Homo sapiens: one gene and its partner. The protein of the gene in region 1 interacts with the protein of each later gene in a pairwise test. Each region holds a gene or a part of one and is shown in the gene's direction. Other genes may lie near its edges. The genes, in order: ASL and MCMBP.

Region 1 (15,517 bases):
ATGGTAATTTCAATAACTCGCAGTCCTTACTCAATGGAGTCTGTCAGGAGAAGGCCTTGTGGAACATAGATCTTCTCATTCTGCTCTTGAATGCATTTGGAGACTTTCTTCAGAAGCTTCTGGTAATGAGTTTCCAAGCATAGGAAGATGGTATATGCTGTTAAACAAGCCAAACAACCTTCGAGATATGATTGGCCACCAAGCTTCTCTGCTTCTGCATAAAGGTTATTTAGAGTTTGAACTATTTCTTCAAACTGCTGCCTATCAATCTGGTTCTCCAGCTCCATGGAGAACATGGTCTGGAACTGGCAGCCTGTGCCACTGCTGTAGTCTCGCTGAATGAACACCTTTCTGGACTCTGGTGCCTGCCGCAGCCTCATGGCAAGGACAGGACAGGCCGCACTCTAATTTTTGTGTTTTTAGTAGAGACTTAGTTTCACCATGTTGGCCAGGCTGGTCTCAATCTCCTGACCTCAGGTGATCCGTTCACCTCAGCCTCCCAAAGTGCTGGGATTACAGGCGTGAGCCACTTCGCCCTGCCCTCCTATGAGTCTTTAATGCCAAGGATGCTTTGTCAAGATAAAGGCTCACGTCCATTTCAGTGTCAACTGTCAGGGACTCAGCTGCAGACACTTTTGACTCATCTGCTTTCTGTTTATTTGTTTTTGATTTTTTGTTTTTTGCAAGCCTTTATGCTGCCTTCCTGTCTTTTTTTTTTTTTGAGACCAAGTCTCGCTCTGTCCCCAGGCTGGAGTGCAGTGGCACGATCTCGGCTCACTGCAACCTCCACCTCCTGGGTTCAAGCGATTCTCTTGCCTCAGCCTCCCAAGTAGCTGGGGCTACAGGCATGAGCCACCGTGCCCAGCTTGCCTTCCTGTCTTTCTCCTCTTCCTGAGTCTCTTCCCCATCCCTACAGCATGGCCTTCACGTATGCCAAGCTTGCAAGCTTGCTGTTTGTTGCAAACAAACCTGGACTGACAATCTCTCTTCTGTCTTGTGGACAGCCAGACTGACTGTCCTCTTCTACCTGGGTGCCTGTGTACATGTCCTCTAACCCCTAACCCTAACCCTTTGCAGCTTCTGTTTCTTTTCTTTTCTTTTTCTTTTTTTTTTTTTTTGAGATGGAGTTTCACTCTTGCTGCCCAGGCTAGAGTGCAATGGCACGATTTCGGCTCACCGCAACCTCCGCCTCCCGATTCAAGCGATCTCCTGCCTCAGCCTCCCGAGTAGCTAGGATTACAGGCATGCACCACTATGCCCAGCTAATTTTGTACTTTTAGTAGAGATGGGCTTTCTCTATGTTGGTCAGGCTGGTCTCAAACTCCCGACCTCAGGTGATCTGCCTGCCTCGGCCTCCCAAAGTGTTGAGATTACAGGTGTGAGCCACGGATCCCAGCCAGCTTCTCTTTCTTTATCTATAAATAGAACTGTCGTGAAGATGCAATGAGATGAATTTTAGCTCAGAGCCTGCCACCTGGTGACTTACCCATGTTAGGTATTGTGGTTACAGCTCTGCTGTCAAACCACTTCTCCAACTCTCTTTCTAGCCTCAGTTCATTTGTCAAAGGGTTTGGCCCCAGTATTTTGCTGGATATTCAGAAGTACGACCTCACGTCTGCAGAATGCCACTGACTTTCACACGAGGCCTCCCAGGAAGGGATGCCAGGCCTCAGACACTAGCTGTTGGATCTCGGGACTTGCCACTCCACTTTGGCATTTTTCAGGACCACACGGCATACAGTTGATCTAACAGTCTTTCCTGTCCTCCCAGTGGTCAGCTGCAGCCCAGTTCTAGGGCTTCTGTGGGAGAAGACAGGAGAGGGCTGGGAGTCAGGGCACACAGATGTGTCAGATGAGGCTTTGCTTGCAAGGAGCTCACCACTTGGGTGGTGGAGAAGGCCCAGAAGGCACTACTACAGTGCTCCCAAATCAGGAAAAGATTGCTAAATGCCCGTATACTCAGGATCACATGGGAGCCCAGAGTTGGATGCCTGGATCAGCTGGGAGTCTACCTGACATTGATGATGTTTGGCTAGAATACTGATGGACAAGGCCAGGCGCGGTGGCTCACGCCTGTAATCCCAGCACTTTCAGAGGCCAAGGCGGGTGGATCACGAGGTCAGGAGATTGAGACCATCCTGGCTAACACGATGAAACCCCATCTCTACTGAAAATACAAAAAATTAGCTGGGCGTGGTGGTGGGCGCCTGTAGTCCCAGCTACTCAGGAGGCTGAGGCAGGAGAATGGCGTGAACCCAGGAGGTGGAGCTTGCATTGAGCCGAGATTGTGCCACTGCACTCCAGCCTGGGGGACAGAGCGAGACTCCGTCTCAAAAAAAAAAAAAATACTGATGGACGAATGGGAGGTGGCAAGACCGACACTGAGGGAAGGGCATCCCAGGCACAGGGAAGAGCATTTAGGAAGGCTTGAAACAGTCAGGTGCATTCTGGGAACTCCAAGTAATTCCACTCTTGAGTTGAGTGAGGGCTAAACACCTTCAAATCACAAAACATTCCAGCCACTGGTCTCTTCTTCTCCCTCCATTCCATCCTCAATACTATAGCTAGATTTATCTTCCTTCCTTCCTTTCTTTCTTTTTTAACATGGGGTTTCAGCCGGGCGCAGTGGCTCACCCCTGTATCCCAGCACTTTGGGAGGCTGAGGCGGGCAGATCACCTGAGGTCAGGAGTTCAAGAACAGCCTGGCCAACATGGAGAGACCCCATCTCTACTAAAAATATAAAATTAGCCAGGCGTGGTGGTGCATGCCTGTAACCCCAGCTACTTGGAAGGCTGAGGCAGGAGAATCGCTTGAACCTGGGAGGCAGAGGTTGCAGTGAGCTGGGACCGTGCCATTGCACTCTAGCCTGGGCAATAAGAGCGAAACTCCATCTCAAAAAAATAAATAAAAATAAAATAAAATAAAATAAATTTGGCTCCTCTGATTTTAAAATCGATCGGGGTTTCCTATGACCTATAGGACCAAGAACAAACTCCCTCTCTTGACATTGAAGACTCTTCACAGCCTTCTCCCAAACTCCTTCCACCTCTCCTCCCTACCTTTTGTTATAGTTACAGCCACTTGGATGATTTCCTGTTCTTAAAGCAGGCCAGTCACATTTTTTGTCCAGACTTCTCCCTCTGCCTGGAATGTTCTCCCCTTCTTCCCTGGGCAAATTCCCCCCATCTTCCAAGACCCAATGCAGAAGACAGGTTCATTAGAAGCCCCTTCAGGGTACTTCCAGTGCCTAGAATCCAGCCTGACATTTTGGTTGAATAATTAATTAATCAGATCAAGGACCTCTTCCCTGAGTACCCAACATAGCCCCCCTCCCCAACGCCTGTGCTCCCTGCACACCTCCTCCATGCTATGTTGGAACTTCTTGAAGTCAGGCTTCATTTCTTTTGTTTCGTTTCTTTCTTTGTTTTCTCTTCTCTTTTTCTTTTTCTTTCTTTCTTTCTTTTTTTTTTTTTTTTTTCGAGACAAGAGTCTCACTGTCGCCCAGGCTGCAGTGCAGTGGTGCCGTCTCAGCTCACTGCAGCCTCCACCTCCCTGGTTCAAGTGATTCTCCTGCCTCAGCTGTCGGAGTAGCTGGGACTACAGGCACCCACCACCACACCCGGCTAATAGAGACAAGGTTTCACCATGTCAGCCAGGCTCATCTCGAATTCCTGACCTCAGGTGATCCGCCCGCCTCAGCCTCTCAAAGTGCTGGGATTAAAGGCGTAAGCCACTGTGCCCGGCTGCGTTTCTTTTTTCTTTTCTTTTCTTTCTTTCTTTCTTTCTTTCTTTTTTTTTTTTTTTTTTTTTTTGAGACAGAATCTTGCTCTGTCACCCAGGCTGGAGTGCAATGGCACCATCTCAGCTCACTGCAATCTCCGCCTCCCGGGTTCAAGAGATTCTCCTGCCTCAGCCTCCGGAGTCGCTGGGATTGCAGGCACCCGCCACCGTGCCCGGCTAATTTTTGTATTCTTAGTAGAGACGGGGTTTCACCACCTTGGCCAGGCTGGTCTCAAACTCCTGACCTCGTGATCCACCCGCCTCGGCCTTCCAAAGTGCTGGGATTACAGGCGTGAGCCACCGCGCCCGGCCTCCGGCCGCGTTTCTTTTCTTTTTTAGAGGAGTCAGGCTGGAGTGCCGTGGCACAATAGCTCACTGCAGCTTCGAACTCCTGGGCTCAAGTGCTCCTCCCGCCTCAGCCTCCTGAGTAGCTAGGACTGCAGGCGTGCACCACCACGCCCGGCTTTTTTTTTATTATTATTAATTTTTTTGTAGAGACGGGATCTTGTTGTATTGCCCAGGCTGGTCTCCAACTCGTAGCCTCAAGCGATCCTCCCACCTCGGCCTCCCAAAGTGCTGGGATTACAGCTGTGAGCCACCGCGCCTGGCACAGGCTTCATTTCTGATGGTCCTTCCTTTTTCCTTGATGCCTTTCTCTGTACCTGGCACATAGAGGTGCCTGGTACGTGTTTGTTGAATGAATGAATGAATGAGTGAATGAGCGAACATGCCATTTCACCTTATATATCTTGTGAACCTGCCAGGCCCGGGCCTGATGTCATAGCCTCTACCCCTGGCCCGAGTCTCCAGTCCCCTGCGTGTCTGCTGACCACAGCACGAACGCCAGCGCACTACCCTCCTCAACCCCAGCCCAGGCCCCTTCCCCGTCGGGGTCCCCCCAACCCTTTCCCCGCCCGCTTCCCCGCCCCGGGGCCGCTTAGCCTCCAGCTCAGCGGGAGGTATCCCCGCCCACGGCCAGGATTGGAGGATGGAGGCAACGCCCACCCCGCCGGGCGGCCTCCTATTGGCGCGGCCGTCGCCAGGGGTGGGGACAGGACCGGCGGCTGCTGACGCCATCCCGGCCAGAAAAGCCCTGGCCAGTGGCGGGCGCGACACTATCCGTGCGGCCAGGCGGAGGTGAGTGCGCGGCGGCCGGATGGGCGGGACGGGCGTGGAGGACGCCGAGCACCGTGGCGCGCGCTCACGTCCGCGTCCCCAAGGGCTGCGCTCCCTCAAGCGCAGTGCCCAGAACTCGGAGCCAGCCCGGCCCGGGGGACCCTGCTGGCCAAGGAGGTCGTCAGTCCGGTCTTGTCTTCCAGACCCGGAGGACCGAAGCTTCCGGACGACGAGGAACCGCCCAACATGGCCTCGGAGGTGAGTGGGACCTCGGGGACTCCGGTCCTCCTAGCCTCCAAAGGAGAGAGTGGGGGCGCCAGACCTGCCTCGGGCCACCCTGCTGGGAATCGCCCTCCAGGAAGCAATTTTGAAAATTACCTAGGAAGCCTGCACCCCCAGCCCTCCCGGGCGCATCATCTGGAGCCCAGCAGTCACCTTTACCAGGACTCACCAGTATCCGCAGGCAGCCCTTGTGGCAAACCCACCAACCCACACTACTAGGGGTAGAGTGGCTCTGCCCTCACCTCACAGTGATGCCTGCCTGGCCAGGAAAAGTGGCTCCCAAGCCTTCAGCCTTCCAACTCTTCCTTCCTTCTTACCACGTGTCCTCCTGTCAGGTCCCACCCCACACCACATCCCTTCTCCTGCTAGAGCAATTGTCCCTGTTTATAGAATAAAGCTCAGCCCCTAAGTGTTCTTGTCCTTGACTGTGGCATGTGGAAAGAGCCAGGAAAAAGGGGACGTCGCCTCGTGGCTCCAGCAACCCTGGTGCCTGGTCCCTTCCTGTCTCACTGGACCCTGCCTCTTAGGGTCAGTGGCTCCTGGCCTCTCCTCCTGACCACTGAGATGCTGGATTCCCAGGCAGAGGTTTTCCTTCCTTGGGCCATAGTTGATTTATCTGGCAATGGGGGTAATAATAGCTGTCGGCCTCACTCTGTAAGGCACTAGATTATGAGGCCATTGCTTTGGACCCTTCAGGTGAGAGGGGCTGTTCGCCTGATGCTTGATGAAGGGAACTCCGGGAAGCAGGAGGTCTGGGTTCCAGGCCCTTTTGGCCTTCATTAGCTAGCAATTCACTTCCTCTTTCTCAATGCCCTGCAAGCTCAGTGCCCTGCAAGCTTCTGGGTCATGGCAGGGGGGTAGGGCCTGGACTTTGGAGCCAAACAGACTTGGTTTCTGTACCAGTCACTTGAGCCCTTTAAACCTCTTTCCTCATTTGTGAAATAGGGGTAATATTGCCCACCTCATAAAAGGCCGTAATAACATATGTGAAATCCCTAGCACAGGGCTGAGCAACAGTAGGTGCTCAATAAATGGTGGCTAACCACAACAATACTGATATTTCTACTTTGGGAGGCCGAGGCGGGAGGACTGCTGAAGCCCAGGAATTCCAGACCAGCCAGGGCAATGTAATGAGACCCTGTCTCTACAAAAAGATTTTGAAAATTACCCAGGTGTGGTGGCGTACACCTGTAGTCTCACAGGAGGCGGAGGCATGAGGATTGCTTGAGCCCAGGAGTTTGAGACTGCAGTGAGCATGATCTCACCACTGCACTCCAGCCCAGGCAACAGAGTGAGATCCAGTTTCAAAAAAATAAAAATAAAAAAACCTGGCAGGCATGGTGGCTCACACCTGTAATCCCAGCACTTTGGGAGGTCGAGGTGGGCAGATCACCTGAGGTCAGGAGTTTGAGACCAGCCTGGCCAACATGGTGAAACCCCGTCTCTACTAAAAATGCAAAAATTAGCTGGGTGTAGTGGTGGGTGCCTGTAGTCCCAGCTATTCGGGAGGCTGAGGCAGGAGAATCGCTTGAACTCGGGAGGCGGAGGTTGCAGTGAGCTGAGATCGCACCACTGCACTCCAGCCTGGGCGACAAAGCAAGACTCCACCTCAAAAAAAGAAAAAAAACCCACAAGTCCCAAAACCAAAACTGGTATTTCCCATGTACATTCGACCTTAACTGTTGCTCATTCAACCCAGCCCAACTCAGTGCCCCATCCCCTGGCCCTGAAGAGACCATTCTGGCCCAGATGTGTCCTGGCTTGGAGTAGCACCTTCTGCTACCACACTAGGCCTCCACTCTCCTCAGTGCCCAAGGGGAGGCACCTCACTCTGATCTCCCTGTGGGGTCCTCTTATGCCTGCCAGTAAGGATAGGAGTTTGGTTCTAGAGCAGAGTGGTCTGGCTTCCAACAAGCCCAGTGTTCTAGGTGACCTCAGGTTGCCCCAGGCCTTCCTGTAGGTTGGCACTAATTGGTTTGGCTGCAGCTCCACTTATTAAGTAGTTATTTTTATTACTAACAACCTAGGCAGGGTGGCCCAGGAGCCCGCTGGGGGAGGCGGTGCCAGGCTCCTGGCTGAGGGGCAGGCTGGCCCCAATTCTGACTGGCTGGCTCCAGTGATCAGGACCAGGGCCCCACGTGGTGCTTTGCTGGAGATCTAGGCTTGGTGGGGCAGCTGTGGGGTAAGGGGCAGGACCAGCTCAAAGATGGGGTGGGGGCGGAGGCTGCCTCTGCAGGGCAGAGTCCTTTGGCAGTCGGGACTGTTGGGCATAGAGGAGTCAGCTCACAGCTCAGGGCCAGAGCACTGGAGAGGTCTCTGGGGTGCATACAGGAACCAGGAGTGGAGCTGAAGCATGTCCTATCCCCTGCCAGCCCTCCCTTAGTAACAGCTGGCATTTCTCGAGTCCTTCCTGAGCACCAGGCACCGTGTTATGTATGCAATTTGCAAATATTATCTGATTAAATGCTCACAATAAGGCTATCAGAGAGGTACTATTATTATCCTTATCTTATTATTATTATTATTATTATTTTTAAGAAGGAGTCTTGCTCTGTCGCCCAAGCTGGAGTACAATGGCGCCATCTCTGCTCACCGCAACCTCTACCTCCAGGATTCAAGTGATTCTCCTGCTTCAGACTCCCAAGTGGCTGGGACTACAGCTTCCTGCCACCGCGCCTGGCTAATGTTTATATTTTTAGTACAGATGAGGTTTCACCATGTTGGCCAGGCTGATCTCGAACTCCTGACCTCAAGCGATCCACCTGCCTGGGCCTCCCAACCCTGAGGGTTTTTGTTTTTGTTTTTGTTTTGAGACAGAGTCTTGCTCTGTCGCCCAGGCTGGAGTGCAGTGGCACGATCTCAGCTCACTGCAAGCTCCGCCTCCCGGGTTCACGCCATTCTCCTGCCTCAGCCTCCCAAGTAGCTGGGACTACAGGCGCCCAACACCCCCATGCCTGGCTAATTTTTTTGTGTGTGTTTTCAGTAGAGACGGAGTTTCACCATGTTAGCCAGGATGGTCTCCATCTCCTGACCTCGTGATCTGCCCACCTCAGCCTCCCAAAGTGCTAGGATTATAGGTGTGAGCCACCACGCCCAGCCCCTGAGGTTTAATAATAGGTGCCAGGCCAGGTGGTTAATAGAAGTCTGGGGCATTGTAGGGGGACAGAGGAGGATATATGTCCCCATTGGCCATTGTAGACTCCCTTCCACAAAAAGGACGTCAGTGAAGTGACATGCCCACCTCTACCCCACCCTCCTCCCAGTCCTGGGCACTAGGGCTGCTCCCCAGGTGTTCTGTACCCCCTCCCCACTCTGTCCCATGCCCTGGCCTCTGCCCTCTTTCAAAACATAGATGTGGCTGGCGCCTAGGCTCATGCCTATAATCTCAGCACTTTGGGAAGCTGAGGCTGGAGGACAGCTTGAGCCCAGGAATTCAAGACCAGCCTGGGCAACATAGTGAGACCCTGTCTCTACCAATTATTTTATTTTATTTTATTTTGTTCATTTATTTATTTATTTTGAGACAGAGTTTTGCTCTGTCACCTAGGCTGGAGTGCAGTGGCGTGATCTTGGCTCACTGCAACCTCCGCCTCCCGGGTTCAAGCGATTCTCCTGCCTCAGCCTCCTAAGTAGCTGGAACTACAGGCGAGTGCCACCACGCCTGGCTAATTTTTGTATTTTTAGTAGAGACCAGGTTTCACCATGTTGACCAGGATGGTCTCTGTCTCCTGACCTCATGATCCACCCACCTTAGCCTTCCAAAATGCTGGGATTACAGGCATGAGCCACCACTCCCAGTCCTATAAAATTTTAAAAAAATGTCTGGGTGTGGTGGCGCATGCTTGTAGTCCCAACTATTGGGGAGGCTGAGGCAAGAGGATTGGTTGAGACCAGGAGTTTGAGGCTGCAGTGAGCTATGATGGTGCCACCGCACTCCAACCTGGGTAACAAAGTGAGACCCTGTGTCTAAAAAAGAATTTAAAGGCCGGGTGTGGTGGCTCACACCCGTAATCCCAGGACTTTGGGAGGCCGAGGTGGGCAGATCACGAGGTCAGATTAAGACCATCCTGGCTAACAAGGTGAAACCACGTCTCTACTGAAAAAAAAAAATACAAAAAATTAGCCAGGCATGGTGGTGGGCACCTGTAGTCCCAGCTACTCAGGAGGCTGAGGCAGGAGAATGGCGTGAATCTGGGAGGTGGAGCTTGCAGTGAGCCAAGATCCTGCCACTGCACTCCAGCCTGGGTGACAAAGAGAGACTCCATCTCAAAAAAAAAAAAAAAAAAAAAGAATTAAAAAAGATTTTTTTAATGAACAAAACAGGCTCGGCACAGTGGCTCATGCCTGTAATCCCAAGCACTTCGGGATGCCAAGGTCAGGGGATCACCTGAGATCAGGAGTTCGAGACCAGCCTGACCAACATGGTGAAACCCCGTCTCTACTAAAAATATAAAACTCAGCCAGGTGTGGTGGCACACGCCTGAAATTCCAGCTACTCGGGAGGCTGAGGCAGGAAAATTGGCTTGAAGCCGGGAGGTGGAGGTTGCAGTGAGCCGAGATCACGCCACTGCACTCCAGCCTAGGCAACAGAGTGAGACTCTATCTCAAAGAAAACGAACAAAACATAGATGCCTACATACCATTCCTCTGCCCTTGGCTCCTGGGGAGTAAGGGATCACCCAGTGACCTCCTAGAAGGCCAGTGACAATGGGGGGTGTCAGGGTGCTTTTCAGAGCCAAGGGAGTGGTAGGAATTGGGATCTTAGTCCAGCTCCAAGCTGTGAGGGAGAGAGTTGCAGGGCACTTAAGCTTGGTGGAGACCCTCAAGGCCTCTTTGCCTGTCCCTGCAGCAAAGGTTCTGGACACCAGAGCCAAGTCCAGAAGCCCTGGTGGAACAGGGGTGAAAAGCATAGGTTCTGACTTCAGACTGCTGGGCCGCAGCCCTGGCTATCCCACCCCAGGTGAGAGCAGGCTGCTCTGTGCCTCAGTTTCCCCATCTTCATAGTGGAATTGTATTGGTGCCTACCCAGAGGGTTGTGTCAACAATTAGGATGGCACCTAGCACCTTGGTCAGTGGTGGGAAAGGTTCCAGAAGTTCTGCTGTGGTCCCAGGGGTGTCTCAGGCCCTGCCATCATCTCCTTGGAGGGGTGCCATGTGGTGGGAAAGAACCCCAACTTCAAGGCCACACACAGTGGCTCATGCCTGTAATCCTAGCACTTTCAGAGGCCAAGATGGGAGGATCACCTGAGGTCAGGAGTTCAAGACCAGCCTGGCCAACATGGTGAAACCCCATCTCTACTAATGATACAAAAATTAGCTGGGTGTGGTGGCACGTGCCTGTAATCCCAGCTACTTGGGAGTCTGAGGCAGGAGAATCTCTTGAACCTGGGAGGCAGAGTTTGCAGTGAGCTGAGATGGCACCACTGTACTCCAGCCTGGCCGACAAAGTGAGACTCTGTCTCAAAAAAAAAAAAAAAGAACCCAAACTTTTGGTGTTCAGCCATGTTCCCATGCTCACTCCCAGGGTGGTGACTCTGGGAAGGTCTCAGCCTCCTTGTCTGCCCAGTTAGAATGATCTGATGCCCCTGCTACCATCAGACTTGATAAGTTTCCCAAAGACTCTTTGCAAGAAGCACTGTTCTGGAGGGTGGAGGAGAGACTAATTGTTCTTGCTCTCCTGGCCAGAGTGGGAAGCTTTGGGGTGGCCGGTTTGTGGGTGCAGTGGACCCCATCATGGAGAAGTTCAACGCGTCCATTGCCTACGACCGGCACCTTTGGGAGGTGGATGTTCAAGGCAGCAAAGCCTACAGCAGGGGCCTGGAGAAGGCAGGGCTCCTCACCAAGGCCGAGATGGACCAGATACTCCATGGCCTAGACAAGGTACTTGCCGTGGCCCAAGCCCCACCCAAGGCCCCTTCCCTGTGGCCCCAGGCTCCCACCAAATCCCTGAGCAAACAGTGCAGTGTTGCCCATCTGTGGTTTCACATTGAACTAATTATATACTCAAGTGCTGTTTAACTGTGTGCCTTGATGACTGCCTCTCTCCATCCTTTAATGACCCCTGTGGCCCACATGGCTCATGGGTAAAGGTGTGCTGGGCCTGAGATGCCCCCTCCCAGGGTGCGCTTCCAGGACTCAGCTCCTGGGCAGGGACAGTCAGTCACCAGGGATAGGGTGGGACCAAGGCAGGGGCTCTCTTGGCTGCTGATGCCTGCTCACCTGACCCCGGCATTGCTGCTACCCACTACAGGTGGCTGAGGAGTGGGCCCAGGGCACCTTCAAACTGAACTCCAATGATGAGGACATCCACACAGCCAATGAGCGCCGCCTGAAGGTACGACCCCTGGAGCCCCACCGCTTTCCTTGCCTCCCCTCTCCACCTTGCCCAGGGCCACTTTGAGCATTAGCACCATTCTGTTTACTTCGCCATTGGCAGACAGCATGTGAGACCTCAGGACATGAGCCAGGCACCCTGGCTCATGCCTATAATCCTAGCACTTTGGGAGGCTGAGGTGGGAGGATTGCTTGAGACCAGGAGTTCGAGACCAGCCTGGGCAACATAATGAGGTCCCACAGCTACAAAAATTAAAAAAAGAAAAGAAAAAAAGAACAGGCCTCAGCAGAAATGGCGAGAGATTTGGGGAGGACCCGGAGCCCTGGGGTATGGAGGTAGGTTGGCAGGGCTGATGAGGAAAACTGCCCTGCCTGGGTTGACTCCTCTGGGGGTATAGACCGTGACCCTGGGTCTCCCTTCACCTCCAGGAGCTCATTGGTGCAACGGCAGGGAAGCTGCACACGGGACGGAGCCGGAATGACCAGGTGCTTTAGCCCCTCCACCCCCTGCTCCGTGTTGTCCCAACCTTGAGGAGCCCAGGGGGCAGTTAGAGTTCTGCAGCGGTCCTGGCTCCTCAGGGAAGCAACACATCGGCCTCCCTGAGCACCATCTCCTCCTTGCACAGGTGGTCACAGACCTCAGGCTGTGGATGCGGCAGACCTGCTCCACGCTCTCGGGCCTCCTCTGGGAGCTCATTAGGACCATGGTGGATCGGGCAGAGGCGTGAGTCCTACAGGGACACCCAGGGGGCAGACAGAGGTGTGATGGAAGCCTGAACAGGAGACCTAGGGGGCAGGGGTGAACAGCGTGGGGGTGCCAGGCCCTGGGGGACAGGGGCATCCCAGAACTCCAGGATCGAGGCAGAGCAGCCAGGAGTGGGCCATTTCCTGCAGGCCCCAATACTCCCATGCCAGTCTAGCTCAGCAGGCAGAGAAGACTAACCCTTCGTGGGGCTGGGTGCGGTGGCTCACGCCTGTAATCTCAGCACTTTGGGAGGCCGAGGTGGGTGGATCACCTGAGGTCAGGAGTTCGAGACCAGCCTGGCCAACATGGGAAAACTCTGTCTCTACTAAAAATACAAAAATTAGGCAATGTGGTGGTGTGCGCCTGTAATCCCAGCTACTCGGGAGCCTGAGGCAGAAGAACTGCTTGAACCCGGGAGGAGGAGGTTGCAATGAGCCGAGATCGCGCCATTGCACTCCAGCCTGGGCTACAGAGCGAGACTCCTGTCTCAAAAAAAAAGAAAAAAAAAAAAGAAAACTCACCATTTGCAGATTTGAAGGCAGGAAGCTAAGCCAAGCACAGCTAGCTTGGCTGTGCCTGGAGCAGCCAGAGTCACTCCCCACACTGCCTGTCCCCCAGATCCCCCATCCTAAGCTTCGCCTCCCCATCCAGCCCATCTGGCAAAAGACAGAGCCAAAGGCTGCCTCCTGCTGGCCTCATTTCAGGCTTTGGCTTCTGGGACCTGGTGTCTTTGGGACTGGATTTGTTCCTTGCAGACCTGGACGAAGAGCTGCTGAGAAGTCTCCATGTGTTGTCAGAGACCCCTCCTCTTCCTCAACTCCCTGTGACCCCTGTTGTGCAGACTTGGGGGAAAACAAGGGCACAAGAATTGTCACCCAGCAGGTGGTGTGGGGCTGCTAGGAGGAACAGGGAGTGTCTGCTACTGAGTTCAGGGTTTCTTTAATTTTTTGTTGTTGTTGTTTGTTGTTGTTTTTTTTTTTTTGAGACAGGGTTTTGCTCTGTCACCTAGTCTGGAGTGTAGTGGCGCTATCTGAGCTAACTGCAAACTCTGCCTCCTGGGTTCAAGTGATTCTAGTGCCTCAGCCTCCCAAGTAGCTGAGATTACAGGTGTGCACCACCATGTCCAGCTAATTTTTGTATTTTTTTCAGTAGAGATGGGTTTTGCCATGTTGACCAGGCTGGTCTTGAACTCCTGAGCTCAGGTGATCTGCCCGCGTCGGCCTGCCAAAGTGCTAGGATTACACCCATAAGCCACTGCGCTCAGCTTAATTTTTAAATTTTTAACTTTTTAAATTGTCTTTAGAGATGAGATCCTGCTCTGTCACCTAGGCTGGAGTGCAATGGCTTGGTAATAGCTCACTGCAGTCTCAAACTCCTGGACTCAAATGATCCTCCCACCTCAGCTTTCTGAGTAGCTAGGACCACAGGTGTGCACCACCTGTGAGACAGAGTCTTGCTCTGTTGCCCAGGCTGGAGTGCAGTGGCGTGATCTCCACTCACTGCAACCTCTGCCTCCCAGGTTCACGCCATTCTCCTGCCTCAGCCTCCCGAGTAGCTGGGAGTACAGGTGCCCACCACCACGCCCGGCTAATTTTTTGTATTTTTAGTAGAGACGGGGTTTCACCATGTTAGCCAGGATGGTCTCAATCTCCCGACCTCATGATCCACCCACCTCGGACTCTCAAAGTGCTGGGATTACAGGTGTGAGCCACCGTGCCCAGCCGCGAATTCTTTAAATTTTTTGTAGAAACAGGGTCTCACTATGTGGCTCAGGCTGGTCTCAAACTCCCGGCCTTAAGTGATCCTTCCCTCTTGGCCTCCCAAAGTGCTGGGATTAAAGACTTGAGCCACCGTGCCTGGCCTTGAGTACAGAATTTCTTCATGGGGTGATGAAAATGTTCTAAAATTGGTTGTGGTGATGGTTGTACAGTAAAGTGTAAACTTTAAATGAGTAAATTGTGAATGATATCTCAGTAAAGCTGGTTTATTTAAAACAACAGGCCAGGTGCTGTGGCTCACGCCTGTAATCCCAGCACTTTGGAAGGCTGAGGCGGGTGAATCACCTGAGGTCAAGAGTTCGAGACCAGCCTGGCCAACATGGTGAAACCCCATCTCTACTAAAAATACACAAAATTAGCTGGGTGTGATGGTGGGCACCTGTAGTCCCAGCTACTTGGGAGGCAGGAGAATCTCTTGGACCTGGGAGGTGGAGGTTGTAGTGAGCCGAGATCACGCCACTGCATTCCAGCCTGGGCAACAAGAGCGAAACTCTTTCTCAAAAACAACAACAACAAAAAAACAGGCCAGGTATGGTGGCTCATATCTGTAATCCCAGCCCTTTGGGAGGCCAAGGCAGGAGGACTGCCTGAAACCAGGAGTTTCAGACCACTCTGGGCAACATAGCAAGACCCCATCTTTTTTTTTTTTTTTGAGACGGAGTCTCGCTCTGTCGCCCAGGCTGAAGTGCAATGGTGCAATCTCAACTCACTGCAAGCTCTGCCTCCTGGGTTCATGCCATTCTCCTGCCTCAGCCCTCCTGAGTAGCTGGAACTACAGGCGCCCACCACTACGCCCGGCTAATTTTTTGTATTTTTAGTATAGATGGGGTTTCACCGTGTTAGCCAGGATGGTCTCGATCTCCTGACCTTGTGATCTGCCCGCCTCGGCCTCCCAAAGTGCTGGGATTACAGGCGTGAGTTACCGCGCCTGGCCACAAGACCCCATCTTTACAAAAAACTAAAAATTAGCTGGGCATGGTGGCATGTCCCTTTAGTCCCAGCTACTCAGGAGGCTGAGACAGGAGGATCGCTTGAGCCCAGGAGATCGAGGCAGCAGTGAGCTATGATCATGCCACTGCACTCCAGTCTGGGCAACAGAACGAGACCTTGTCTCTAAAAATAAAAACAAAACAAAACAACAAGAAAACAGGACCATCACTCACAGCACCTCTGCCTCTGCCCTGCCTACTTGAATGAGGTGCAGGGCATCTCACCTGCTCAGAGCAGCCCTTGAATGAGCCCCAGCTATTTCTAGGGTCCTCAAACGAAACCTCCCACGGCCAAGTCATACCCAACATGGGCCTCCTCCCCTATTCTGGCCCCTGCTCGGAGATGCTGAGTGACAGAGGCTGGACTTGGGGTGTTTCTGGCAAAGCCTCACTGCAGGAAGCCCCACAGCTCAGGCCCAGTCCTTGGTTCACACGGTCCCACTTCCAGCTTCTTTTGCCCTTAAGACTGATTTGTCCCTGGGAGATCACCAGA
Region 2 (15,517 bases), on another chromosome or scaffold:
CTCCTGGGCTCAGGTGATCCTTCTATATCAGCCTCCCAAAGCCATTGGCATAACAGGCGCGAGCCACCACGCCCAACCAGTCTTAGCTTTTATAAGCAGTGGATTTCTTTGTTATGGTGGGTATATAAGTTTGTCTTTATATTTGTAATATATTCGAGTTTGTAATATATTCGAGTATGTGCTATCCACTTCCCTTCAGCACCTTTAATCAGAAGGAAAAATTAAAGGACAAGGAGGCAAAACAAATCAGTCTGGTCATTTACTATCTGCAAGATTGGGTAGAGAAGGCTTTTTTTTTTTTTTTTTTTTTTTTTTTTGAGACAGAGTTTCGCTCTTGTTGCAGTGGCTGGATTGCAGTGGCACGATCTTGGCTCACTGCAAGCTCCACCTCTTGGGTTCAAGCAATTCTCCTGCCTCAGCCTCCTGAGTAGCTGGAATTACAGGCATGCGCCACCACGCCTGGCTAATTTTGTATTTTTAGTAGAGACGGGGTTTCTCCATGTTGGTCAGGCTGGTCTTGAGCTCCCGACATCAGATGATCCACTTGCCTCGGCCTCCCAAAGTTCTGGGATTACAGGCATGAGCCACTGTGCCTGGCCAAGGCAAATTTAACAGTCAGTGGTAAACAGGGATTTACTAATGAATTTTATTTACCCTTATATTACTCTACTTTATAAATTGATATTTCCAGATTTTCTTAATGCTAAGATATATTTTAATGTGTTTAAAATTGGAATGTTTTACTATAAATACATATAAATGTCGTAGTATTCTTTTTCTCCACCGATCCCCAGAATATATTAAAATTAATGGTCTATCATCTAGCCTGGACAGCATGGCGAAACCCCATCTCTACTAAAAATACAAAAATTAGCCAGGCATGGTGGCAGGCGCCTGTAATCCCAGCTGTTTGGGAGGCTAAGGCAGTAGAATCACTTGAACCCAGAGGGGCGGAGGTTGCAGTGAGCTGAGATCATGCCATTGCACTCCAGCCAGAGTGACAGAGAGACTCCATCTCAAATAAATATCATAGTAACTTATATATTGTAATATATTCGAGTGTGTATTTAAGTCCAGGAAATATGTTAATTCTCTTATCACTTAAGCAGTTGATGCTACTTTTTATTTCTTACCATTCTTGTTTGAATGTCTTAATGCAGGCTTTTTATGCATTTGAGTACTTTATTTATATAAAGTAACACTTGTTGGTGTTTAGTCAATGTTTTAGGCTATACATATTTTTAAACTTTTTATTTTGACACAGTATAGACTTACATGCAGTTGTAAGAAATAATACAGAGAGGCTGGTTGCGGTGGCTCACACCTATAATCCCAGCCCTTCAGGAGGCCGAGGCAGGCACATCACTTGAGGTCAGGAGTTCCAGTCTGGCAAACATGGTGAAACCCCATCTCTACTAAAAATACAAAAATTAGCTGGGCATGGTGGTGCACGCCTGTAATCCCAGCTACTTGGGAGACTGAGGCAGGAGAATTGCTTGAACCCGGGAGGCGAAGGTTGCAGTGAGCGCTGATCGCCACCATGCTCCAGCCTGGGTGACAGGGTGAGACTCTGTCTCAAAAAAAAAAAAAAAAAACAGATCTTGTATACCTTTTAGCCTCTACTTCCCCCAGTGGTAATACCTTACGTAATTATAGTAGAATGTCATAACCAGGAAGTGGATATTGATACAATCATTTTTTTTCCTTTTTTTTTTTTTTTTTAGACGGAGTCTTGCTCTGTCACCCAGACTGGAGTGCAGTGGTGCAATCTCTGCTCACTGCAAGCTCCGCCTCCTGGGTTCACGCCATTCTCCTGCCTCAGCCTCCCGAGTAGCTGGGACTACAGGCCCCCATCACCACGCCTGGCTAATTTTTTGTATTTTTAGTAGAGACGGGGTTTCACCGTGTTAGCCAGGATGGTCTCAATCTCCTGACCTCGTGATCCACCTGCCTCAGCCTCCCAAAGTGCTGGGATTACAGGCTTGAGCCACTGCACCTGGCCTGTTCTTTGCAGTTTTATCGCATAGGTAGATTCATGTGACCACCACCACAGTTAAAATCGGGAATATTTCATTACCCAGATCTCTCATGTTGCCCTTTTATGCTCCTAACTACCACTCTCCTGCCTCCTCCGTCCCCAGAAGTCTCTAGACCCTAGCAACCACTGGTCTCTTCTCCATCTCTTATAATTTTGTCATTTTAAGAATGGAATTGTATATTACATAAACTTTGGGGATTGTCTTTTCTTCAGCACAATTCCCTTGAGATCCATCCCAATTGTTGCATGTATCAGTAGTTTGTCCGTTTTATTGCTGAGTGGTGTTTCGTGGTATGGCAGGCTATAATTTGATTCTCATGTTATCAGCCCTAAAGTGTAACTACTTCAGGAGTTGGGGTTATTCTTTTAATGACCTGTATATCCCCAACAACTGGTTTGATTCCTGGTACATACTGGATATTAATAAGTATTTGGTAAATTAATTTATTGCTGTATGGTTTTATTCTGCTTAATTAATAGAAAAAGTATGTTCTACCAAGGAGTTTTGCTGTCGGTAGACCATGTATTCCTTAAATCAAAGATGTCAAAGTAACCATATTGCAAATCAACTTTTGAAACTGGTTATACATGAGATTTGATGGGAGGAATTTGTTGATATCTTACAGTAAGGGAAAAAAAAGTAAAATTTTTAGATCTTCATGTTTATCTTTGTCCTCTTACAGATCAAACAAAAGACTTTGTTAGTATGTGCTGTTTCCTTAAAAACTGTAACAACTTGAACTTTGCAAGCTCAGAAGCATCACGTATATCAAACTTGAAAGGCACTTATGGAATGTTCTTTTTCTCCAGGAGGCCTTAGAAATGACTAAGTGCAATGCTATCCTTTGAATTTAGGGAGTGTTGGTGGTCTTCAATGGTGTGGAGAGCCAAAACGTTTAGAAACTGAAGCTTCTACTGGGCAACAGCTGAACTCTCTGAACTTGTCTTCTCCTTTTGATTTGAATTTTCCATTGCCAGGAGAGAAGGGCCCTGCATGCCTTGTGAAGGTAATAAAACCTTTCGTAGATCCAACACTGAAATGTTATGTGTCTCAGAAAGTAGCTTAGTGTCTGAGCATTTGCATTTGTTCCCTTGTGCTGGGCTAGCTATAGCAAATCACTGCAAATTTAATAGCCTAAAGCAGCAAAAGTTTATCATCTTACAGGCTTTAGGTCAGAAATCCAACATGGTCTCACTGGGGTAAACTCGAGGTGCCAGCAGGGCTACATTCCTTTCTCGGAGCCCCTAAGGGAGAATTTCCTTGGCCTTGTGGCTCCTTCTTCCATATTCATAGCCAGCAACATTGCATTTGTCTGACCATTTTTTTCATGTTGACATCTCATCTGACCACAACCAAGAAAGTTTCCCCAATTTTAAGAATCCGTGTGATTACATGGGGCCCAGCCAGTTAATCGAGGATAATCCCCCCCATTTCAAGGTTATTAATTTAATCACACCTGCACATTCCTTTTGCATGTAAGCTAACAAGTTAAAAGAATCGAAGAACATCTCAAATGCAGAAGCAGAACAACTTTTAAATTATGTCTGTTCCCTTCCTGTATCATTTCTAACATAATATCTTCTTCATTTTTGTCTTCTTCCTTCTCTCAGCAAAACCTATTTTTCACTTATATTTAAAATAAAACAGAAGGAAGAAAACTTTTAATAGTTTGTTCTTCCATCTTACTTATTCTAGTGTTTTGATCCTGATAAATGAGCAAGTGATAGAAGGTTCAGAAATGATTGTTAAGGATTTCTATCCTTATTCTTTGTGCATTTTGGGTTTTTTTGTTTTTGGGGGGTTTTTTTGTTTGTTTTTTTGAGGCAGTCTCACTCTCTTGTCCAGGCTGGTGTGCAGTGGCACGATCTCGGCTCACTGCAACTTCTACCTCCTGGGTTCAGGCAATTCTCGTGCCTCAGCCTCCTGAGTAGCTGAGATTACAGGCATGCACCACCACACCCAGCTCGTTCTTTATATTTTTTGTAGAGATGGGGTTTCACTATGTTGGCCAGGCTGGTCTCGAACTCCTGACCTCAAGTGACCCACCCACCTCAGCCTCCCAAAGTTCTGGGATTCCAGGGGTGAGCCACTGCACCCAGATTCTCAGTGGTTTTAACTGAAATGACACTTAAGTCATATGGCACAGGGACCAAAATTACCATTTTTTCCCCTGCCTTGCTTCTACCAGGTCTAATCAGTAAATGGCCTTGACTATTACTAAGTCCATCATGACAGACAATTTTGAAAGGTTTTTTTTTTTTTTTAAATTGTGAAAAATCTTCTGGCCATTCCAAGTTTTGTGTTAATCCGATGTTGCAGTTTATGAATAAATGCAAAGTTAATCATCTTGTTTTTGTTTTTTCCTTTTCTTGGTGTGGTTTAATAGGTTTTGAGATAGTGCACAGTTCTAGTTTTAACTGTCAGCCTTTGGGAAAAGGCTTTTTTTAATTTTAGGAAAAGCCTTTTTTTTTTGTAGTACTGTGGTATATTGAAAACAGACATTAGTCTGGAAGTTAGGCATCCTGTGTTTTGGTTTTTCACTTATTTGCTAACTAGCAGAATGACTCTTGGTCTCAATTTATAAAAATTTATAAAATAAAGGACTTGCTTTAAGGTCTGTTTCCTGATCTAAAATTCCAAGATATTGGTACTTCAAGACTAATATCTTAAGCTTTGTGTCTGTTCTAACAGTGTGATTTCATGTGGTCTCTTGTTAGGTTTATGAAGATTGGGATTGTTTCAAAGTAAATGACATTCTTGAGCTATATGGCATACTGTCTGTGGATCCTGTGCTGAGTATACTGAATAATGATGAAAGGTGAGTCTGTGTGCTCTTTTTTTGGTCTCCTTTATTTTTATATAATTTCAAGTTTTCAGGAGAGTTACAGGATGGTTTTAAAGAACTCCCTTTTCCCTTTCTCCCAGATGTACCAGTTGTAAACACTTGCACCCCATGTGTTTTGTCATTCATTTGTGCTCTCTATGCACACATTTTTCTGAAACACTTGAAAGTATGTTGCAGAAATCAAGCCCTTTTACCCCTAACTGCTTGTCAACATTTCCTAAGAGTACTGACTTTCTCATATATAATTAGAGTACAGGTATCAAAACTAGGAAATTTGCCACAAATATACAATACACTAATCCACAATCTATACTTAATTTCACTAATTGTCTTAATCATGTTCTTTCTTACACGTCTCCCTTCTGCATCCCCCAGTCCAGGGTTCAGAAGCTCGCTCATTCTCTATTTCTACTGAGTTCATACTGTATTTCTGATTCCAGTTCAGCACCACAGGTGTCGTTCTGCTTGTTCTCCTTTCTGTATTAGTGTAACTCTCTTAAACTTGATTCCCATTTTTCACAATCTTATCATTTGCACATTTTTACAACATAGAGAAGGGAATTTCAGAATTGTTAACTCATACCTTTACAAAACATAAACCTAAATAACTAGAGTTCAATCTGAAACAGTCCTCAGCCTTTGTCTTTCATGGTCTTGCCACTTTTTTTTTTTCCTTAAACAACAGAAATATATGTCTTCCAGTAGTTCTGGAGGCTGGGAAGTCCAAAATCAAGTTCCCAGCAGATCTGGTTTCTAGTGAGGGCCCGCTTCCTGGTTTACAGATGGCTGTCTTCTCACGTGGTAGAGAGCAGACAGCCTTGATGCTTTTGAAGAGTGTAAGCCAGTTACCAGTTACTTGTTTCCTCATGGTTAGACTCAATGTTTTGCATTTTTGGCAGGAATATTACAGAATTGATGTATCCTCAGTATGTTACAGCAGGAGGCATGCGATGTCAGTTTGTCCCTTTACTGGTGAGGTTAATTTTCATTAGTTGGTTAAGGTGGTGACTTCCAGATGTCTCTTCTGTAAAGTTACATTTCTCACTTTGTAATTGACAAGTAACTTGGAGGAAGGTACTTGGGGACATAAATATCCAGTTTCTCATTAAACTTTCACCAATTTATTTTAGCATTCATTGATGATTCTTGCTTGAATCAGTTATTACTTTGTTGGCAATTTTCTAACGCAGTACATTTATTTATTGGCATTCTACTATAAAAGATACCTCTTCCATTTGTTTATTCAAGTAATGTATTTACTTATATTTAGTATAGACTAATAGATTCTGATTTTATTCAATGTTAATATCATTATTTTATTTCGAGACCCAAATTTTCCCAGATTTGGCTAGTGGGAGCCACTTTAAGCAGGTGCCGGGTCCTTTTTTTGAGATGATGTTATCATTTTTTAACATTTATTTTCTGGCATATTAAGCTGTTGCAGCTTCATCGTATGCTTTGAAGATCTGAGTCCTAGATGTGCTCGTTGGTACTGGATTAGATTTGCATCTAGGCCCTTAAAGTAGACAGAGCTAGGATACATGCAGCATATGGATACATATATACGCACCCACATTTAAATGCACACATACACACTCACATGCATGTTTTGTGTATTTCTAATGTCTGTGAAAAACCATGGGTTCATATTTCTGATTCCAGTTCAGCACAGCAGGAGTCACATGTTCTAGTTGTTCTCCTTTCTATATTTATGACTTCTTTTTCTAACAAATTTGATTCCCATTATTCACAATCTGTTGTTTCCCCATTTCTACCATATACAGAAGGGAATTTCAGAATTGGTAACCCATACCACTACAAAACAGAAACCTAGTAATTAGAGTTCAATACATTTCCAGTTCATTTTTATTTTAGAATGCAGCTGTGTAGTCAGAGCTATGTTCCACTTACTCAGGTAACTTTTCTTCCCCTTCAGTGTGATTTCATTATTTATTTTACTTAGAAAGATTCTCAGAGGTGTCATTCTCGGCTATCCCCATTCCTGCTGTCTGTTCCCACCCAGCCTCCTTAGGGAACCACAGTTTCTGGTTTATCCTTCCTGTATTTATTTTTTTACAAAAATATGAAGATACGTATACATTTTATTTCTACCTTTTTCTTCTATAAAAGGTAACATGGTATATATACTCTTACACTTTTTAATTTTTTTTATTAACAACATATCTTGGAAATCTAGACCTTCCTCATTCATTTTTGTTTTGTTTTGAGATTGCCAAAAGCAAGGGCTGATGTCCCTCATCTACACCAGAGTCCTCTTGTTGAATACCGGACATTAATCATCTTAGTTTCTGTGTAGGATGAACTTAACATTTTTCACAGTTAAAAAAAAATGGTACAAAACAAAAATTTTAAACAACTTTAAATAAGCTTAACCGTCCCTTAATAATAGTATATGAGATTGTTCATCTTGGCAATTTCTGATTGTGATGACTTTCCTGCTTTAGTTACTTCACTATTGATGTAGTTTAGTTTAGAGGTTGTATTAGGGGTCTCTAAAGGGTCAGAACTGATAGGATAGATGAATATATGAAGGGGAGTTTATTAGGAGAATGACTCACATGATCACAAGGTAAAATCCCACAATAGGCTGGGGAGCAAGGAAGCCAGCCTGAGTCCCAAAATCTCAAAAGTAGGGAAGCCACCAGTGTAGGCTTCAGTCCGTGGCTGAAGGCCTAAGAGCTCCTGGTGAACCACTGGTGTAGGTCCAAGAGTCCAAAAGCTGAAGAACTTGGAGTCTGATGTTTGAGGGCAGGAAGCATCCAGCATGAGAGAAAGGTGGAGGCGGAAGACTCAGCCAGTCTGCTCTTTACATGCCTGCCTTTATGCTGGCAGCTGATTAGATGCTGCCCACCCAGACTGAGGGTGGGTCTGCCTCTCCCAGCCCGCTGACTCAAATGTTAATCTCCTTTGGCAACACCCTCACAGACACATCCAGGAACAATAATTTTCATCCTTCAATCCAGTCAGATTGACAAAGTATTAACCATCACAGAGGTTAAGAGCACAGACAGGCAGGCAGCCTGGGTTGGAGTCCTGACTTGGCCACTTACTAGCTATGTCACCTTGGGCTTGGTTTCCTCATTGTAAATAAGGGTAGATGTGAGGTTTTGGTGAATTTGTACGTGTAAGGCATTGAACGTTGTCTGTCACATGGTACGTACTATGGAAAAGGTTATTATGCTTGTATTAAAAAATACAGGAGTATGAATTTATTACTTCAGTGTCTATAGATTCTATAAAGTCAAGATCTAAAAGATTAGCTATTTGTTTTGGTCGTCTCACAAATCTATCATCTGCAGATTTATTTAGCAAGTCTGAAAAATTCATACTTTCATTGCTTGTCTACTCAGTCTTCGAGGGATCATGTAAGAATTAAATTTAGGAAAAACAATTAGCAAGATAAGAGATGAATGGATTCTCCACACGCTGAATAATAGATACCAGATGGCTTTTGAGAAAAAGACCCCAGTTTTTGAGATCTGCTGTCAAGTATTCGATGTCCCGGCCAATAGTTCAAGGAGTACCTGTGTTTTGAAATAGCCTTATGAGTGACATCCTACATTCCATTTATTGAAGTGCTGAATAACAAATATTATTGTTTCTGGCCAGGCATGGTGGCTCACGCCTGTAATCCCAGCACTTTGAGAGGCCAAGGCAGGCAGATCACTTGAGGTCAGGAGTTCGAGACCAGCCTGGCCAACATAGTGAAACCCTGTCTCTACTAAAAATACAAAAATTAGCCAGGCATGGTGGTGTGCACCTGTAATCTCAGCTACTCAGGAGGCTGAGGCATGAGAATCGCTTGAACCCAGGAGGCAGAGGTTGCAATGAGCCAAGATCGCATCACTGCACTCCAGCCTGGGCAACACAGTGAGACTCCATCCAAAAAAAAAATAAAAATAAAAATACCGTTCTTGAAAAATTGAATAAATGCATTATTTCATGATATGTCTTAACAAGCCTGAAGTCTGTGTGATGTAACACTTTAGAATGAGAGGCCACTTTCTGTTCTTTAAGGAGATGTACAGGTGGAAATATTCTTGGCTTTAACTCTAATTTTGTTTTCCAAGATGCACATTATTTTTGCATCTGTGCAATTGATGTCTCTCTAAATTGAAACTTTATCACCTCTCCACAGGGATGCCTCTGCACTGCTGGATCCGATGGAGTGCACAGACACAGCAGAGGAGCAGAGAGTACACAGTCCTCCTGCTTCATTAGTGCCGAGAATTCATGTGATCTTAGCCCAGAAGTTGCAACACATCAACCCATTATTGCCTGCCTGCCTTAACAAAGAGGAGAGCAAAACCTGTAAGTGTAAGTGTTACAGCCTAGTCAACTATCGACTGTTAGCCTCAGTGTGTCCAGAGCTGCCTGTAACGTGCTCATAGTGGAATTGAGAGTCAGGTCTTCATTCCTCACAATAAGTGTTTTCAGTAATCTCTCTCTCGTTGCCCCATTTTTCTCTTACATTAATTCTCTTCACTGAAATGAGGACAAAAGAGTATACAAGGCTGGGTGCAGTGGCTCACGCCTGTAATCTTAGCACTTTAGGAGGCCAAGGTGGGTGGATCACCTGAGGTCAGGAGTTCGAGACTAGCCTGGCCAATATAGTGAAACCCTGGCTCTACTAAAAATACAAAATTAGCCAGGTGTGGTGGCGTGTGCCTGTAATCCCAGCTACTCGGGAGGCTGAGGCAGGAGAACTGGAGGCAGAGGTTGCGGTGAGCTGAGATGGCACCATTGCACTCCAGGCTAGGCAAAAAGAGCAAAACTTGGTCTCAAAAAAAAAAAAAAGGAGGATGCAAACTGCCTTATTTTTAAGATTAGCATCACTTACTGACGGATATGTTAAGCTTTACCTACTGTCGACTGAATTGTGCTTTGCTCACGTAGTTATTTTTTTACCTAAGACACTTGAGAGGAACTGGAGTGTGTGTCCTGACTCAGGTCTTCCTTTCTCCTTCAGTTGTTTCAAGTTTCATGTCCGAATTGTCTCCAGTCAGAGCAGAACTTCTTGGGTTCCTTACTCATGCCCTTCTGGGGGATAGTTTGGCTGCTGAATACCTTATATTACATCTCATCTCCACAGTGTAAGTGCTGTATCCTGGTGGGAATTAGGGGAGTTTGGTGTGTGTGGAAGTGGAAGAGCGGGAAGATTGCTGGTGTCATTTGTGTGTTTTCCTTATTGGGCTTCATCACATGGTTTTTATCTGTCCAGTGTTAACTGTTATACCAAATCACAGACAAATTCCTTTTCTCACAGTTCACATTTAGCATTTTGATTATGTCCCCTTAAATTTTAGAGCCAAAATCAGATAAAGCAGTGGTCCCCAACCTTTTAGGCACCAAGGACCCATTTCATGGAAGACCATTTTTCCATGGACCGGAGTGGGGATGGTTTCAGTATGAAACCGTTCCACCTCAGAACATCAGGCATTAGTTAGATTCTCATAGGGAACACACAGATGTGCAGTTCACAATAGGGTTCGCGCTCCTGTGAGAGTCTGATGCCACTGCTGATCTGACAGGAGGCGGAACTCAGGCGGTAATGCCCACTCATCCACCCCTCACCTCCTATGTTGTGGCCCGGTTCCTAACAGGCCATGAACCAGTACTGGTCCACGGCCTGGGCGTTGGGGACCCCTGAGATAAAGGACCTGGCTGATGAGTAAAATGAGCTGTTTTATCCCTTTTGCATTCTGAACGCTCTGTTTATACATCCCAAGGCGCCCACGTCATGTGCACGTTTAACGTGGACATTGACACTAGCACCGCATCCCTTGACTCCACTGTATTTCTTTGTTTCTCATTTTAAAACTAGTGTGGGCCTTTGACAAGTTCCAAGAACATAAGGAGGAAAATGCACATCATCTGTAATTTCACCACTTAGAACCTCCGTTAACCTTTAGGTACATGTTCATTGGTTTTTGTTTACATATGTATACATCCTTGCATAGGTCTTAGTTACACTCTAAGCACAGATGCGTGTCTTGTTTTCAGCAGTTGATATATATTAAACATTTTCCCATCATAATGCTTCATGAACTTTGTAGTGGCTGCAAAGTATTTCACTATGCAGTTGTACCATACTGTAACCATTTCCCTAAATGTTAGCTTTTCCTAGCTTTTCTCTATTATAAAGTTGCAGGAAACATCTTTGTGCTGTAAATCTTATCTTTTCTCAAATCAGTCTGTGACAGTAGTACATAATGGTTGAGAGCACAGGCTCTGGAACCAAACTACCCGGATTCATATCCCAGCTCTGTCAGCTTCCATTTAGATGAACATGTTGCTTATTATCATCTCTGTGCCTCGGATTTCTCATCTGTGAAGCAAAGACAACAGCACCTACCGCTGAATGGTTAGGGGTTAAATGAGGAAGCATTTACATACTCAGAACGGTCTTTGGCACGTGACCAGCAGCACTTACGTACAAATATTGGCTATTACTTTTATTGCTGTTATTCTGATAAAATAACTGGTCAGAATATTCTGGTTTATTTTTAATGACAATATTAAGCTAATTTTTCTATTCTTCGCTATTTGATAGAAATCAGGAAGTCACTTCAGCATCTTATTGATTGATTTCTTTCTTTTCTAGATATACAAGAAGAGATGTCCTTCCACTAGGAAAATTTACAGTTAACTTGAGTGGTTGCCCACGGAATAGTACCTTCACAGAACACTTGTATCGAATTATTCAACATCTTGTTCCAGCAGTAAGATGAATATAAATATGTATTATAAACCTAAGCACACTTAAAAAATCCATCTAACTGTCTTTCATTCACTTCAAATATTTAACTTAGAGATTTTAATAGATCTTATTTAAGGGGAAACAAAGCCTGCCAAATTACATAATTTAAAATGTACGTTCCCCTAAACATTTCACTTTTTTTTGTCTTTTTGCCTAAGCACAAATTTCTGTAAGTCTAACAAAACAATTGTAGTAACTCCCTTAAAATTACACTCTCTTGATACCAATTTGTCCAATTTGGTATCCTTTTTGTACACTAAAGTCTTAAATCTAAATAAACTCTAAATTGTAGGAGCATAATTCTTTTAGTTGAGGTAATAAAGTTCTTTATCTCCATTGCCTCAATTTTAATTCCTGTTTGGAAAGTTGAGCTCACTTTATTTGCCAGGGTATCTGGAATGCAGTATTTGCGTGGTGGTAGGATCTTGGGAACAGGGGAATTGCTTCTGATTAGTTGTGTGACTGAAAATACTGATCACTTCTTTGGAAATTGAAGAGGGTGCACTAGATCTTTATTGAACCGAATGTATTCAGTGTCTCAGTGCTAACACTCGTCCAGGCCCTCAAGAAGCAGAAGTGGACTGGAATATACCAGCAGTTCTCAGTCTCCTTAGACTCACTTTACACTCTGAAAAATGTGTTCATACTCAAAGAGCTGTTTTTCACGTTATGATTATATTTATCATTAATTTACCAAACTAGAAGATAAAGTAAATACACCTATTAAAAATAAAAAATTACATATAAATATTTTTATAAAAACAACTTTTCCCAAGCCAAAAATGATTAGTGATAAAGGTGACATTGTTTTACATTCTTGCAAATCTCTTCAATGTCTGGATTAATAGGAGACAATGGATGCTTGTATCTGCTTCTGCCTTCAGTCTATTGTAGTCTCAGGTTTTGGTTGAAGTATATGAAGGAAAGCTGGCCTCACACAGATGGAAAAGTAGATGGTAAAGGAAGGATGGTTTCGATAGCCTTTGCAGATAACTGGGTGGTGGTCTTTGATACTAGACCAAAACTGTCCACATGAGATTTTCTTAAAGATAGTTAAGTGTGGAATCTGAAATCCTATTCGTAAACTTTCCATAGTCTGCTATGGTAAAATTCATTAGTCTCGCACATTGAAAGGATCTTTTATCCATGCATGATTTTGACCTGATTGACCCTGTAAAAGGGTTTAAGCAATTCCCTGGGGGTTCTCGGGACCACATTTTGAGAATTATTGAAACAGATCCTTTGCCCTCACAGAGTTTAGGTAGAAGACCAACAAATAAATTAATACATGGTAGGTCATTTAAGCACCCCTAAGCTCCCCGTTTTCTTAGAATCACTGAGGTAATACACAAAACTCCTCTAAATTTTCGCAATATATCTTACCTCTTCCTTGACAGCCTTCCCCCACCATACCCTCTTCTCCATCCCTGCCACATTGTTTGAGGCTGGAGGGATGGAAGAATGGATTGGTGTATAAGGCAGAGCACAGAGGGTGTTGGGAATGGTGGCTCAAGAGCTGGAGGAGGAGCATAGATGGTTCGCTTACTCGTTAAACACTGAGTGAGAAGGTGCTCGCGTCCTGGAGGCACCTCCTGAGAGCTGCAGGTCCATCCACAGCTCAGTGTGCTCTGCTCCTTGATTTTTCTCTGAAAAGTTTGTTCAAAAATGTCTATGATAAATGAATACAATTTTAACTCAAAGAATATAGAGGAAAATTAAGCTTTTCTCTCCCTGTCTTGAAGAGTAAAATTAACATTTTCTTTTTGCTAGCTAGCTTGTGTTAGGTGAAAGAGGTTAGGTTTTGGGGTATTTAATATTTATATGTCAGTTATCTACCATTTGTTTCATTGGTTAAATTAAAATTGATTTTCAAGAATATTGAACAAGACATTTGAGAATAAAGTAGCTCATAAAATGGATGAAATTCAAATGTAAGATCTAGATACTATTTTTGCTTCTGGAGTTCAAGAAACCATATCACTACTCCCTTAGAAATTTATAAGATCACTTTTTCCATATGAAACACAATGTTTAATTCCAAGTACATATTTTCTTAAAACAGGGAAACTTAAATTCTTGTTCACTAAAAAATTTCTCTTTGCAGTCTTTTCGTCTGCAGATGACTATAGAGAACATGAACCATTTGAAATTCATTCCCCACAAAGACTACACAGCCAATCGCTTGGTCAGTGGGCTCCTCCAGCTGCCCAGCAATACTTCCCTTGTAATCGATGAGACTCTCCTGGAACAGGGGCAGCTGGATACCCCAGGTACGTACATAGATGTTTCTCTTCCATTTCTGACTTCCTTCGCACTAAAGCCAGATCTAGGAATAACTTTTAGAAGAGTATCTATGGACAAATTCACATTTAACAACGTAAGATAAAGGCTTGGCATATGAATTTGATTAAAGCATATGTTATAAACTAATTATATACACCAACTATGTTTTGCCATAGTATTCTGAAAGTAGTACAATGGAACAGATATATATCTTATATAATATATCTTATATAATATATATCATATATAATATATAATGTCTCATTTAATATATATCATATATTATATATTTTATATATTATATAATGGAGCAATAATATAAAGGGTAGTATTAGTATAATGGAGCAGTAATATAAAGGGTAGTATTAGATGTTGAGGGTCGTAAGGGTTCTTTGGTGAAAAGTTTTATTGTGTCAGCGAATGGTTGGAGCAGTCTTTATGGGCCTACAGTGTTGGGTTCTTTTGCGTAGTTGTATATAACCTAAAATTTTTTTTTCAGTGAGTGTAAGGAATGGTAGAGACAGGGTCTCGCTATGTTGCCCAGCTGATCTTGAATTCCTGGGCTCAAGTGATCCTCCTGCCTTGGCCTCCCACAGTGCTGGGATTACAGGTGTGAGCCACTGCACCTGCCCCAAATAGCTTTTTAAAAAGCTGAAATGGGAGGAAGCTTTGCCTTTAGTCATCTAATACCTCAAAAGGGAAGTGTAGAAAAGATCTAATATAATTTTTTTTTTGTTTTGAGACGGAGTCTTGCTCTGTCGCCCAGGCTGGAGTGCAGTGGCCAATCTTGGCTCACTGCAACCTCCAACTCCCGGGTTCACACCATTCTCCTGCCTCAGCCTCCCGAGTAGCTGGGACTACAGGCACCCGCCATCACGCCTGGCTAATTATGTTTTAACCTCCCGTTGTAAAGTTTGTAAATGGTTTTCAGAGAATGTCTGAGAAATAATAGATCAAATGGTTTGCACTAACCTCAGTTGCGGAATATATTATAAAATCACAAGAAAGCAGATTGTTTACCAGTGCTCAAATGAAGACAATTAAGAATACACTGCTGGCGATCAGCTCAAGAGGTAAAGGTAGAAGAAAAAATGAGGTAGACTGGGCATGTTTAAGGCAAAGGGGAATATAAAATCTGTAAAATTCACTAGGCTGATCTATGTATGACGGTAGTTTTAGTGTTTCCTTGGTTTAGCCCTGTAAATACACCACTTAGAAATAATCATACTTGGGAACTATTTTATGTCTAGGTGCATACCAGATGCTAGGTATTAGATTTGCGGGGGTATCGCCTGCCCCCAGAAAGTTCTACCTTGACCAAGACTGTTGTAAGCCTACACACTTAGTGACGTTTAGCTTAGTAAACTGGACAGCGCCTCATACCCTTTATTAAAAGTGGTAGAAACTTCATGGCTCATCATCGGTGTCAGCAAAACTGATGTGTTTAGATGATTAAAGTCAAATGACTGAAAGTGTTTTCCTGCCTTTGTAGGTGTTCATAATGTGACAGCCCTGAGCAACCTCATAACGTGGCAGAAGGTGGATTATGACTTCAGCTACCATCAGATG

Evidence for each region.
Region 2: the proteins of ASL (region 1) and MCMBP interact in binary tests that used the Homo sapiens proteins (3 or more experiments, as listed by UniProt).

The regions. Positions count from the first base shown.
Region 1 is NC_000007.14:66,070,939-66,086,455, forward strand, and holds the start of ASL (argininosuccinate lyase), read left to right. Parts: upstream 1-4,880; 5' UTR 4,881-4,918; exon of another isoform or gene 4,919-5,100; 5' UTR 5,101-5,143; coding exon 5,144-5,155; intron 5,156-10,864; coding exon 10,865-11,059; intron 11,060-11,429; coding exon 11,430-11,513; intron 11,514-11,941; coding exon 11,942-11,998; intron 11,999-12,138; coding exon 12,139-12,236; intron 12,237-15,517.
Region 2 is NC_000010.11:119,836,953-119,852,469, reverse strand, and holds part of MCMBP (mini-chromosome maintenance complex-binding protein), read left to right. Parts: intron 1-2,893; coding exon 2,894-3,045; intron 3,046-4,756; coding exon 4,757-4,857; intron 4,858-9,043; coding exon 9,044-9,216; coding exon of another isoform or gene 9,217-9,222; intron 9,223-9,874; coding exon 9,875-9,998; intron 9,999-11,509; coding exon 11,510-11,627; intron 11,628-13,769; coding exon 13,770-13,935; intron 13,936-15,440; coding exon 15,441-15,517. UniProt on the Homo sapiens protein: Associated component of the MCM complex that acts as a regulator of DNA replication.